3 linked regions of the Homo sapiens genome follow. The protein of the gene in region 1 interacts with the protein of each later gene in a pairwise test. Each region holds a gene or a part of one and is shown in the gene's direction. Other genes may lie near its edges.

What was found.
Region 2: the proteins of GOT1 (region 1) and BRAF interact in a protein complementation assay, tested with the Homo sapiens proteins (one large-scale study listed by IntAct).
Region 3: the proteins of GOT1 (region 1) and AGTR1 interact in a two-hybrid assay, tested with the Homo sapiens proteins (one large-scale study listed by BioGRID and IntAct).

What each region holds. Positions count from the first base shown.
Region 1 is NC_000010.11:99,420,545-99,424,200, reverse strand, and holds part of GOT1 (aspartate aminotransferase, cytoplasmic), read left to right. Parts: intron 1-3,395; coding exon 3,396-3,577; intron 3,578-3,656. UniProt on the Homo sapiens protein: Biosynthesis of L-glutamate from L-aspartate or L-cysteine. Important regulator of levels of glutamate, the major excitatory neurotransmitter of the vertebrate central nervous system. Acts as a scavenger of glutamate in brain neuroprotection.
Region 2 is NC_000007.14:140,736,274-140,739,929, reverse strand, and holds part of BRAF (serine/threonine-protein kinase B-raf), read left to right. Parts: coding exon 1-118; intron 119-3,656. UniProt on the Homo sapiens protein: Protein kinase involved in the transduction of mitogenic signals from the cell membrane to the nucleus. Phosphorylates MAP2K1, and thereby activates the MAP kinase signal transduction pathway. Phosphorylates PFKFB2.
Region 3 is NC_000003.12:148,739,289-148,742,944, forward strand, and holds part of AGTR1 (type-1 angiotensin II receptor), read left to right. Parts: intron 1-511; exon of another isoform or gene 512-668; intron 669-1,700; 5' UTR 1,701-1,747; coding exon 1,748-2,827; 3' UTR 2,828-3,656. UniProt on the Homo sapiens protein: Receptor for angiotensin II, a vasoconstricting peptide, which acts as a key regulator of blood pressure and sodium retention by the kidney.

The sequences.
Region 1 (3,656 bases):
ATGAGATGTTGCCTCTAGAAACAATTCCAAAAGAAGTTTCAAGAATATTTTGAACAATGGTAACGTTGTGATCATAGATATGTTGATGTGCTTTAGGGACAACTCTTACTTGGAAGTAGCTATTTTGGTACATCTTTAGAGAAGCCAGACCAAATCCCAGCTGGCGAAGGAGGCTTTTTGAACTTGTTGAGAAGTTTGGTGGACTAAGGGGTATATCATGAATGGTATGAGAGTATTGTGAGTTGGGCCAGGCATGGTGGCTCACTCCTGTAATCCCAGCACTTTGGAAGTCCGAGGCGGGAGGTTTGCTTGAGCCCAGGAGTTTGAGACCAGCCTGGGCAACAAAGTGAGGCCCTGTTTCTATGAAAAATTTAAAAAAAAAAAATTAGCTGGTCCTGGTGGTGAATGACTTTGGTCTCAGCTACATGGGAAGCTGAGGCAAGAGAATTGCTTGAGCCCAGGGGGTTGAAGCTGCAGTGAGCTGTGTTCGTGCCACTGCACTCTCACCTGGGCAACAGAGTGAGACCCTGTCTCAAAAAAAGAAAAAAATATTGTGAGTTAGATTCACCAGAGCCGGAGGGTAGACTATGAGTGGTATGAGAGTATTGTTTGATTCACCTACCCAGAGGCATTTGGTCAGTGGCTCTGTCAGTCTGTAGCCCTGTCCACATTTCTATTACTAACTTGAAATGTTTCTCAGATTTGCAGATGACATATTCCTGGAGGGTAGAGTTAGCTGATCATTCAAAATGATCTTATAAAGTCTTTTTACTGTATATCCTGTGACCTAATAAATTAACATTTAGATATTTTTCCTAAGAAAACACTCATGAATATGTGTAAATATATGAACATTTATCACAATGTTTATAATAGCAAATAATTTAAAGCAACACAGTTAATAAATTATATATAAAACAAATATTATTTATCCACTAAACTGATGTTGTAAATGGCTCATATTTATGAAAAATACCCAATTGCATTCATAATAAGATAAATGCAAATTAAAACTACTTGACATATTATATTGGCAAAAATACACTCAGTGCGTAAGGCTGTGTGGAAGCAAACGCTCTTAAACAGTGCTGGTGGGAATGTAAATTGATATAATTCCTGTATCAATTGGGACAATTTGGAAATATTTGTCAAAATTACAAAAACACATACTTCTTAGCCCACTCTTTTGTTTTCCACCCAGCATCTTACAGATATATTTGCATACATGTGAGATGACGTATGTACAGGGTCGTTCACTGAAGTATTGTTTTAATAGCCAAAGATTGTAAACAACTCAAATGTCCAACAAGAGACTGGCAAAGTAAAATATGGTACATTCATCAGCTAAGCAGCTGTAAAAAAGAACAAGGACGCTCTCTATGCGCAAATGTAAAATGATTTTCAAGTGGAAAAAGCAAGGAACACAAAACAGTGTATAGTATGCCGTATGCTACCTTTTGTTTAAAAGGGCATATGTAAGAAGCTGTGTTTGCTTGTGTAGGCATAGGGAAATGCAGGAAGGATATGTAAGAAACTAACAGTTGTTATTTATGGAGGGAGGGATTTGAGAACTAGGTAGATAGAGGATAAGAATGGGATGGAGACATGCAAACATGTCACCTATTAGAAGAATAGTTAATGAGGAGGAAAAATGCATAGTATATATTTAAATGGAAAAAAGCATGTTGAAATTCTATGTACAGTTTGATCCATATTTTATAAAAGAATATGCCCATCAAAAATAAAGCTTAGAAGGTTGTACACCAAAATTTTCATACTCCTTGTCTCTGAGTACTGGGATTATATGTTATGTTAGTTCTCACACTGCTATAAAGAACTACCTGAGACTGGGTAATTTATAAAGAAAAGAGGTTTAATGGACTCATAGTTCCACCGGCCATATAAGAAACATGGTTGGGAGGCCTCAGGAAACTTACAATCATGGAGGAAGAGTGAAGCGCAAGCAAGCACCTTCACATGGCCCAGCAGGAGAGAGAGCAAAGCGGGAGGTGCTATACACTTTTAAAAAACCAGATGTAGTGAGAACTCACTCACTGTCACAAGAACAGCAAGGCAGAAATCTGCCCCCATGGTCCATCAACACTGGAGATTACAATTCAACATGAGATTTGGGTGGGGACACACAGCCAAACTATATCAGTCTACTCCTGACCCCTATCAAATCTCATCGCCTTCTCACATTTCAAAACACAATCACATGTTAATTATAATGTTTATTTTTTACCTTCTGGGCTTTTCCCAATTTTCTACAATCAACACGTGTTGTTCAGTAAATGGTAACAACAACCCTAAAATGTAATTTTTTTTTTAAGTCAGGGATTAATTTTGGGCAGAAATCAAGAAAATAAAAATCAGTATCACTCTAAAATTTTGTTTCCATTTCAAAATCACTTGCGTAAGTGTAGGATTATTGAGGACCTAAACATTCAAACAGAGAGGCAAATGACCCCTGCCAGGAATCCTACTTGGACAGATTATTGGCGTGGGTGCAAAGCTAAGGTAACTGCCCTGTAAAGCTCTAATCCTAACATAATCATAGAATAGTGTAGGGAAAAAAATTGGTGCTGGATAACTCAGAGTGACTTAAAAATACTTTCAGAGGAAGAGGAAATGCTTAGAGGTTTACTGTAGAGCAGGATCAAATATTGTGAAATAGATCAATTTAGATCAATGAAAGGGTGAGGCAGATGAAGTGGGATGAAGTCAGAAGGGTAAACACTGGCTGAGGTCAAAATACAGAGAGAGGATAGAGATGTGTTTAAGTGGGTCCTTGGGTGATTGTGTCACCTGTCATTGAAATCGTCAGGGCATTTGCTTATCATTCGTCTTATTTCTGTTCCTCTGGGACAAGAGGAGTGGTGGGCCTTCTTCCACTCCTTCTCCATGTTTGTGTTAAAGGTGCCAGGTTCATGTGGAAGTAGCACCTAGGCTTTTTCTGGAAGTCTCTTGGGGAGATGCAGAAGGAAGAAGACTGCTGGGCCAATGGCCTAGAGACCTCAGTGCACTAGTGATATTGACATGACATTTGCAAGATGCTTTTTACTTTGCAGAGTGCTTTTCTATGTACTTTCTCATGTGACCAGGCTCTGTGATGTCCCAGTTTTATTTCAGCATTCTACTTTTTGGAGGTCACATAGTTAAGAGCTGTAAGTTCCACAAGGATGGGGACCACATCTGCCCTTATGTTTGCCCAGCACCTAGCCCAATGCTTGGCTCAAATTAGGTACTCAGTAAGTGAACAAACTTTTCTCCAATTTCCTTCACTGTTCTGTTTTGACCGGAAGGTGGTGGGATTCTCCTGGTTCACAGTTACAAACTCTTAACTTGGACACAGCATGAGCCTCCACTATGTATAACTCTTTTCCATTCTCCAGCATATCGCACGGATGACTGCCATCCCTGGGTTTTGCCAGTAGTGAAGAAAGTGGAGCAGAAGATTGCTAATGACAATAGCCTAAATCACGAGTATCTGCCAATCCTGGGCCTGGCTGAGTTCCGGAGCTGTGCTTCTCGTCTTGCCCTTGGGGATGACAGCCCAGCACTCAAGGAGAAGCGGGTAAGTTTTGGGTAAGGATGTATTTTCTCTTTAGAAACTGAAAGTAAAAAGATGTTGAGAATACAGTTTGTTTAAAATA
Region 2 (3,656 bases), on another chromosome or scaffold:
ACGAGGATACCTGTCTCCAGATCTCAGTAAGGTACGGAGTAACTGTCCAAAAGCCATGAAGAGATTAATGGCAGAGTGCCTCAAAAAGAAAAGAGATGAGAGACCACTCTTTCCCCAAGTAAGTAAAAGCTTCATGCTATCCAAAAGAACAGACTAACATTCATAGACAGATTTCTGAGCACTTTTTTGGGCACACAGTGTGTATTTCATGAGTTTGGATTCTATGTGCAGACTCCAGACAAGAAAACACATTAAGATGGCTTCATGAGGGTTGAGCAGTGGCACACCTAGAAATTTTGGGTCCTAATACAAAATATTCAGAAAGACTTTGCATTTGTCCATCAGTTCTCAGACTTCTCAGTCTTTGAACTCTTTTACACATTTAAAAATTATCGAAGACCCCCCCCCCCACAAAGAGCTTTTGTTTATATAAGTTTTAATTCCTTATTAGAAATTAAAACTATTTTTTAAAATATTAATGAATTAAACATAGTAAACCAATATGTTAAATAATATTTAGAAAAAAACAGTTCTATTATCTAAGAGAAAAAAATTAGTGAGGAGTTGTATTGTTTTACTTTTTTTGCAAATCCCTTTGCAAAAAGAAGACAGCTGGATTCTCCGCTTTTGCACTCACATTGCAATATCTCACATCATGTCACCCCTAAAAACTCTACTTAACGCTTGTAAAATAATGACAGTAAAAAAGGCAAATGATATCTTATTGTTATTACAAAAATAGTTTTGACCTCGTGGATCCCCTGGTGGTCCACGGACCACATTTTGTGAACCACTGCTTTATTTCTTCTTGGTGGTAAACAGATTCAAGCTTTCCTTTAATACTGGGTCTTTTTGAGGGGCATTTCTGCCTGATGCAGAAAAAGGAAAAGGCAGTAAGGCATTTGTCAGCTCAGCCTGCCTTTACCTAATTCTTGATAACTCACTGCTTTTTTTTTTTTTTTTCCATATTGGAAGGATAAAGCCTTAAGTTAACAAATTTCAAAAAGAACTGTAACTAAGGCCAGGTGTCGTGGCTTACAAATCTCAACACTTTGGGAGGCCAAGGCAGGCAGATCAGTTGAGGTCAGGAGTTCGAGACCAGCCTGGCCAACATGGTGAAAACCGTCTCTACTAAAAATACAAAAATTAGCTGGGCATAGTGGCAGGAGCCTGTAATCCCAGCCACTCAGGAGGCTGAGACATGAGAATCGCTTGAACCCAGGAGGTGGAGATTGTAATGAGCTGAGATGACACCACTGCATTCCAGCCAGGGCAACAGAATGAGACTCTGTTTAAAACAAAACAAAACAAAAATATCTAAATACCTCAACTAGCTTACAGAGTTTAGCTGTAGTAGATATTATAATATAAATGCAATGTTTTCTGATACTTAGGGAGCTCCTGATAGCACTGGATAAATATGCCTTGATGAATCAGTACAGTTTCAAGTGGGAAGTGCTATTTCCCATAGTAACCCTGCTACCATAATTACTGGAGTGTTCATGTATGAACTCTTAGGCCTTTGAATGCCCAGTCCTAGCTGAGTAACTCAGACAGAAGTCAATGTTACAGGAATTAGATTCACTCATCCTTTATTTTTAAATCTAAAAAATGTTATTCTTCTCTAAAGAATGAAAGAAGATAAAATTGATGGTTTTAACAAGTCTGTCAGGGTGTTGCCTAAGAAAAGAAAGGGAAAGCTAAGTGGTTGGCTGGGTAGATATAAGTTTCATTTATCAGGTTTCAAAGTTACTGTTCCTTTGAGGAAGAGTTTTTATTTTTTCTTTTTATTTTTTTATTTGTTTCTCTAAGTCAGGAAACCTCTGGGTTGAGACTGTCCTGGTGAGAGACAAGTGCTGCTGAGCAGCTTCAGCATGACCCTGTCCCATGTTCTCTTTTCACGTCATGGTGCTCGGGTTCTTACTTAGAATGTTTATTGACATTAATAATGCAAAGTACATCCTTAGGCCCACTTTTTAAATGATATTAAAAGGGGCAAAATGCTTAGCTCCATACTTCTAAATATAACATTTCATTAATTACATGGTTTCAAAAACTGAAGTGCATATGTGAACTTTCCAGATTATTGGAGGCTATCCCTTTAAAGTGTTATTTTGAAATTTTTGTTACAGGATATCTTTTCACACCATACTGTTATATGCCACATAAATTTTAGATGGCTGAAGATCTATATGTTTTATAAAATATGAAATCATTTTTATAGTTTTGAGGTAGGAAAGGCTTTCTTAATAGACAAAATTCAGAAGGAAAAAATTAGCAGATGTGAGTACATTAAAAATTTTTAAACTTCTATATAGAAAAATAACATTGAAAGATAAAAAGAATAATTGTAGCATATATAACAAAAAGTAAATGTTTATAATATACAAAGGACTCCTCCAAATCAATAAGTAACAAACAATAGAAAATGGGCAAAGGGAATATGAACAGGTGATTCACATAATAAATACAAATGGTGAATGAACTTAGGAAAAGGTGTAAATATTTCCATGGCAGTCAGTAAAATGCAAAGACACAACAGTGAAATATATTTTAATTTCGCCTCTCAGGTTGGTAATATCCAGCACTGGGAACAATGTTGGGAAGTGAGGAGGAGCATTCTATGTAAAATTTTAAAGGTTTGGTGGAAGGCAGCATTTTGGAAGACCTTGGTAGAATCCATAAATTCAAAATACTTCTAAAAATCTGTGCTATGTAACCTATTTCATAAGTATTCAGATATATATAAGAATGTTTACTATAATAAGAAAAAGACATTAAGATTAAGTTAGTTTTGTATTGATGACATGGATATTGGTGAGAGAAAAAGAAAACAAGACAGAAAACAAAATGTAGTATGATACCTCATTTTTTTTTTTTATAGGCTGGGCCTGTTCTGTTGCCCAGGCTGGAGTGCAGTAATATGATCATAGCCCACTGCAGCCTCAAACTCCTGGGCTCAAGCGATCCTCTCACCTCAGCCTCCTAAGTAGCTGGGATTGCAGGTGCCTATCACCACACCCAGCTAATTTCTTGTGGTGGTGGTGGTGGTGGTTGTAGAGATAGATTCTCACTATGTTGCCCTGGCTGGTCTTGAACTCCTGGCCTCAAGCGATCCTCTCGCCTCAGCCTCCCAAAGTGCTGGGATTACAGGCGTGAGCCCCAGTGCCCAGCCTGATAACCACTTTAAAAGGTTAAACAGAGGCCAGGCACGGTGGCTCACGCCTGTAATCCCAGCACTTTGGGAGGCCGAGGCAGGCGGATCACCTGAGGTTGGGAGTTCGAAACCAGCCTGACCAACATGGAGAAACTCTGACTCTACTAAGAATACAAAATTAGCCAGGCGTGGTGGCACATGCCTGTAATCCCAGCTACTCGGGAGGCTGAGGCAGGAAAATCATTTGAACCCAGGAGGCGGAGGTTGCGGTGAGCCGAGATCGCACCATTGCACTCCAGCCTGGGCAACAAGAGTGAAATTCCATCTCCAAAAAAAAAAAGTGGTGTTCAGGTGGGCCTTGTTTTCATGTATGTATTTTTATACATAAAAAAAGGTACTGAAGAGGCCAGGCGCAGTGACTCACACCTGTAATCCCAGCACTTTGGGAGGCCAAGGTGGGTGGATCAGTTGAGGTTAGGAGTTCGAGACCAGCCTGGGC
Region 3 (3,656 bases), on another chromosome or scaffold:
GTAGAGATCGCAGTGAGCCAAGATCGCACCACTGCACTCCAGCCTGGGCAATACAGTGACACTCTGTCTCAGAAAAAAAAAAAAAAAGTGTCAAACCTACATCCAAAATGTCAAAGTGCTCAAAAAAGTTGGGAAGGCTTCACCAAAGATGTGACATTTAGGGTAGATAACACCTGTTTGTGGATACTAATGTCCTGGTGAGTCAAAGAAGAAAAGGATGTACATTATATAAGCTGGATGCAAAAAGGAACAATAATGAGGACATGCAACCAAAAACTTACATAGGGAGAACAACTTTACTTACTCAGGGAAGGCAAAGAGACCACTTAAGAACTCCTTCACATGTGTTATGTCTTAAAAGCTGACTACTGGAGTTGTATCCCTTGCACAGCATCCCTTTGCACCAAAGTGAACACTACTCTAAGAACATGTGTTCAGCTCTCCTGAATGCCAAGCACAACCATGCTTGGCATGGCAGTGGTGTCTTATTTCTGCTCCTCTTTTTCCCCAGGGCATGCCATTGCAAGAGAATGCTCAGCCATGTTCATCTGGGGACCTGCTCCTGGTAGAGCAATAGGATCTGTGTGCCCAGCACCACTGCCCACCTAGCTGTCCTGGCCTGTGCCCAATGCTGACCTTCACCTCAGAGTGTGGCTGTACCACATTCGGTGATGTCACTCTCACTGAACCTTCAGCCTCCTTCCTGGGACTTCCTGATGGACTGTTATCCAGGGCAGAATGTGTTGATTTTCTAAATCACATAAATGAATAGCTTGACTGTTGATTATGTAGAAAATCAGAGCAAATATTTGCATGGCTTTGTGCAGCCCATTCTTGAGCATCTGATTCTCCCCAGAATTCTAAAAAACCTGCTGCTTTCTCAAGCCCTCAGTAAAGACATGCTTTCTTGATAATCCTAGCCAAACCTATTCATTTGACATCTTTGTTACACAAATGGTTAACCACAGAGTTAACTTCAGAAATGGCTGGCAGGTATGAAGGTTAGAAGATTCATGCACTTTTGCTAGACTGAATTGGAAGTTAAAGAGTAAGTAGTTACTGACTGCAGAGGCCTGGAAAACCATGGAAAAAATCCTATTCCTCAAAGTCGAGCCCTACCTCCTACGCCTCTTAAATCAATTGCCACAGTGACCAATTTGTCAGTCACCTAAAGGCAGCTATCCTGACCACTTAAGGGAGAATACTTATAATCTTTATACCTAAGTAAAGATTGTGAGAGGAAAGAAATGGTTTAAAGAATATGAATGTGTCACACTTCTGAGGTTAATGATAAATGAATTGGTCCTGCTTACCTCAGGAAAAACTTTCAAGTCTTTCTGAAAAACTAATTTAATTCAGTAGTATTTTCTAAGATTTAGGTTATGTTTTTAATCAATTTGGAAACCAAGATTTACTTATAGAAAAAAAGGAAAAGGACCTAGATAGGTTTATTCACATAGAATCCCAATTTCACTTCTCTGGATGATACCATTTTCTACAAAAGCAATTATGTTCTAAAATTTAAGTGTGCTTTCTTAGGCTTTATCAGTTCACAGTGTTTCCTTAAGAAATATGATCCAGTATTTTTTCCTAAGACTAAAGTTGAGTTACTACGTTTATGACTGAGAAATGAATGTTTGTTAGTTTGTTTGTTTACAATAAGAATTTTTTCTTTACCATTTTATTTTTATTTTCCCCAGGTGTATTTGATATAGTGTTTGCAACAAATTCGACCCAGGTGATCAAAATGATTCTCAACTCTTCTACTGAAGATGGTATTAAAAGAATCCAAGATGATTGTCCCAAAGCTGGAAGGCATAATTACATATTTGTCATGATTCCTACTTTATACAGTATCATCTTTGTGGTGGGAATATTTGGAAACAGCTTGGTGGTGATAGTCATTTACTTTTATATGAAGCTGAAGACTGTGGCCAGTGTTTTTCTTTTGAATTTAGCACTGGCTGACTTATGCTTTTTACTGACTTTGCCACTATGGGCTGTCTACACAGCTATGGAATACCGCTGGCCCTTTGGCAATTACCTATGTAAGATTGCTTCAGCCAGCGTCAGTTTCAACCTGTACGCTAGTGTGTTTCTACTCACGTGTCTCAGCATTGATCGATACCTGGCTATTGTTCACCCAATGAAGTCCCGCCTTCGACGCACAATGCTTGTAGCCAAAGTCACCTGCATCATCATTTGGCTGCTGGCAGGCTTGGCCAGTTTGCCAGCTATAATCCATCGAAATGTATTTTTCATTGAGAACACCAATATTACAGTTTGTGCTTTCCATTATGAGTCCCAAAATTCAACCCTCCCGATAGGGCTGGGCCTGACCAAAAATATACTGGGTTTCCTGTTTCCTTTTCTGATCATTCTTACAAGTTATACTCTTATTTGGAAGGCCCTAAAGAAGGCTTATGAAATTCAGAAGAACAAACCAAGAAATGATGATATTTTTAAGATAATTATGGCAATTGTGCTTTTCTTTTTCTTTTCCTGGATTCCCCACCAAATATTCACTTTTCTGGATGTATTGATTCAACTAGGCATCATACGTGACTGTAGAATTGCAGATATTGTGGACACGGCCATGCCTATCACCATTTGTATAGCTTATTTTAACAATTGCCTGAATCCTCTTTTTTATGGCTTTCTGGGGAAAAAATTTAAAAGATATTTTCTCCAGCTTCTAAAATATATTCCCCCAAAAGCCAAATCCCACTCAAACCTTTCAACAAAAATGAGCACGCTTTCCTACCGCCCCTCAGATAATGTAAGCTCATCCACCAAGAAGCCTGCACCATGTTTTGAGGTTGAGTGACATGTTCGAAACCTGTCCATAAAGTAATTTTGTGAAAGAAGGAGCAAGAGAACATTCCTCTGCAGCACTTCACTACCAAATGAGCATTAGCTACTTTTCAGAATTGAAGGAGAAAATGCATTATGTGGACTGAACCGACTTTTCTAAAGCTCTGAACAAAAGCTTTTCTTTCCTTTTGCAACAAGACAAAGCAAAGCCACATTTTGCATTAGACAGATGACGGCTGCTCGAAGAACAATGTCAGAAACTCGATGAATGTGTTGATTTGAGAAATTTTACTGACAGAAATGCAATCTCCCTAGCCTGCTTTTGTCCTGTTATTTTTTATTTCCACATAAAGGTATTTAGAATATATTAAATCGTTAGAGGAGCAACAGGAGATGAGAGTTCCAGATTGTTCTGTCCAGTTTCCAAAGGGCAGTAAAGTTTTCGTGCCGGTTTTCAGCTATTAGCAACTGTGCTACACTTGCACCTGGTACTGCACATTTTGTACAAAGATATGCTAAGCAGTAGTCGTCAAGTTGCAGATCTTTTTGTGAAATTCAACCTGTGTCTTATAGGTTTCCACTGCCAAAACAATGCCCGTAAGATGGCTTATTTGTATAATGGTGTTACTAAAGTCACATATAAAAGTTAAACTACTTGTAAAGGTGCTGCACTGGTCCCAAGTAGTAGTGTCTTCCTAGTATATTAGTTTGATTTAATATCTGAGAAGTGTATATAGTTTGTGGTAAAAAGATTATATATCATAAAGTATGCCTTCCTGTTTAAAAAAAGTATATATTCTACACATATATGTATATGTATATCTATATCTCTAAACTGCTGT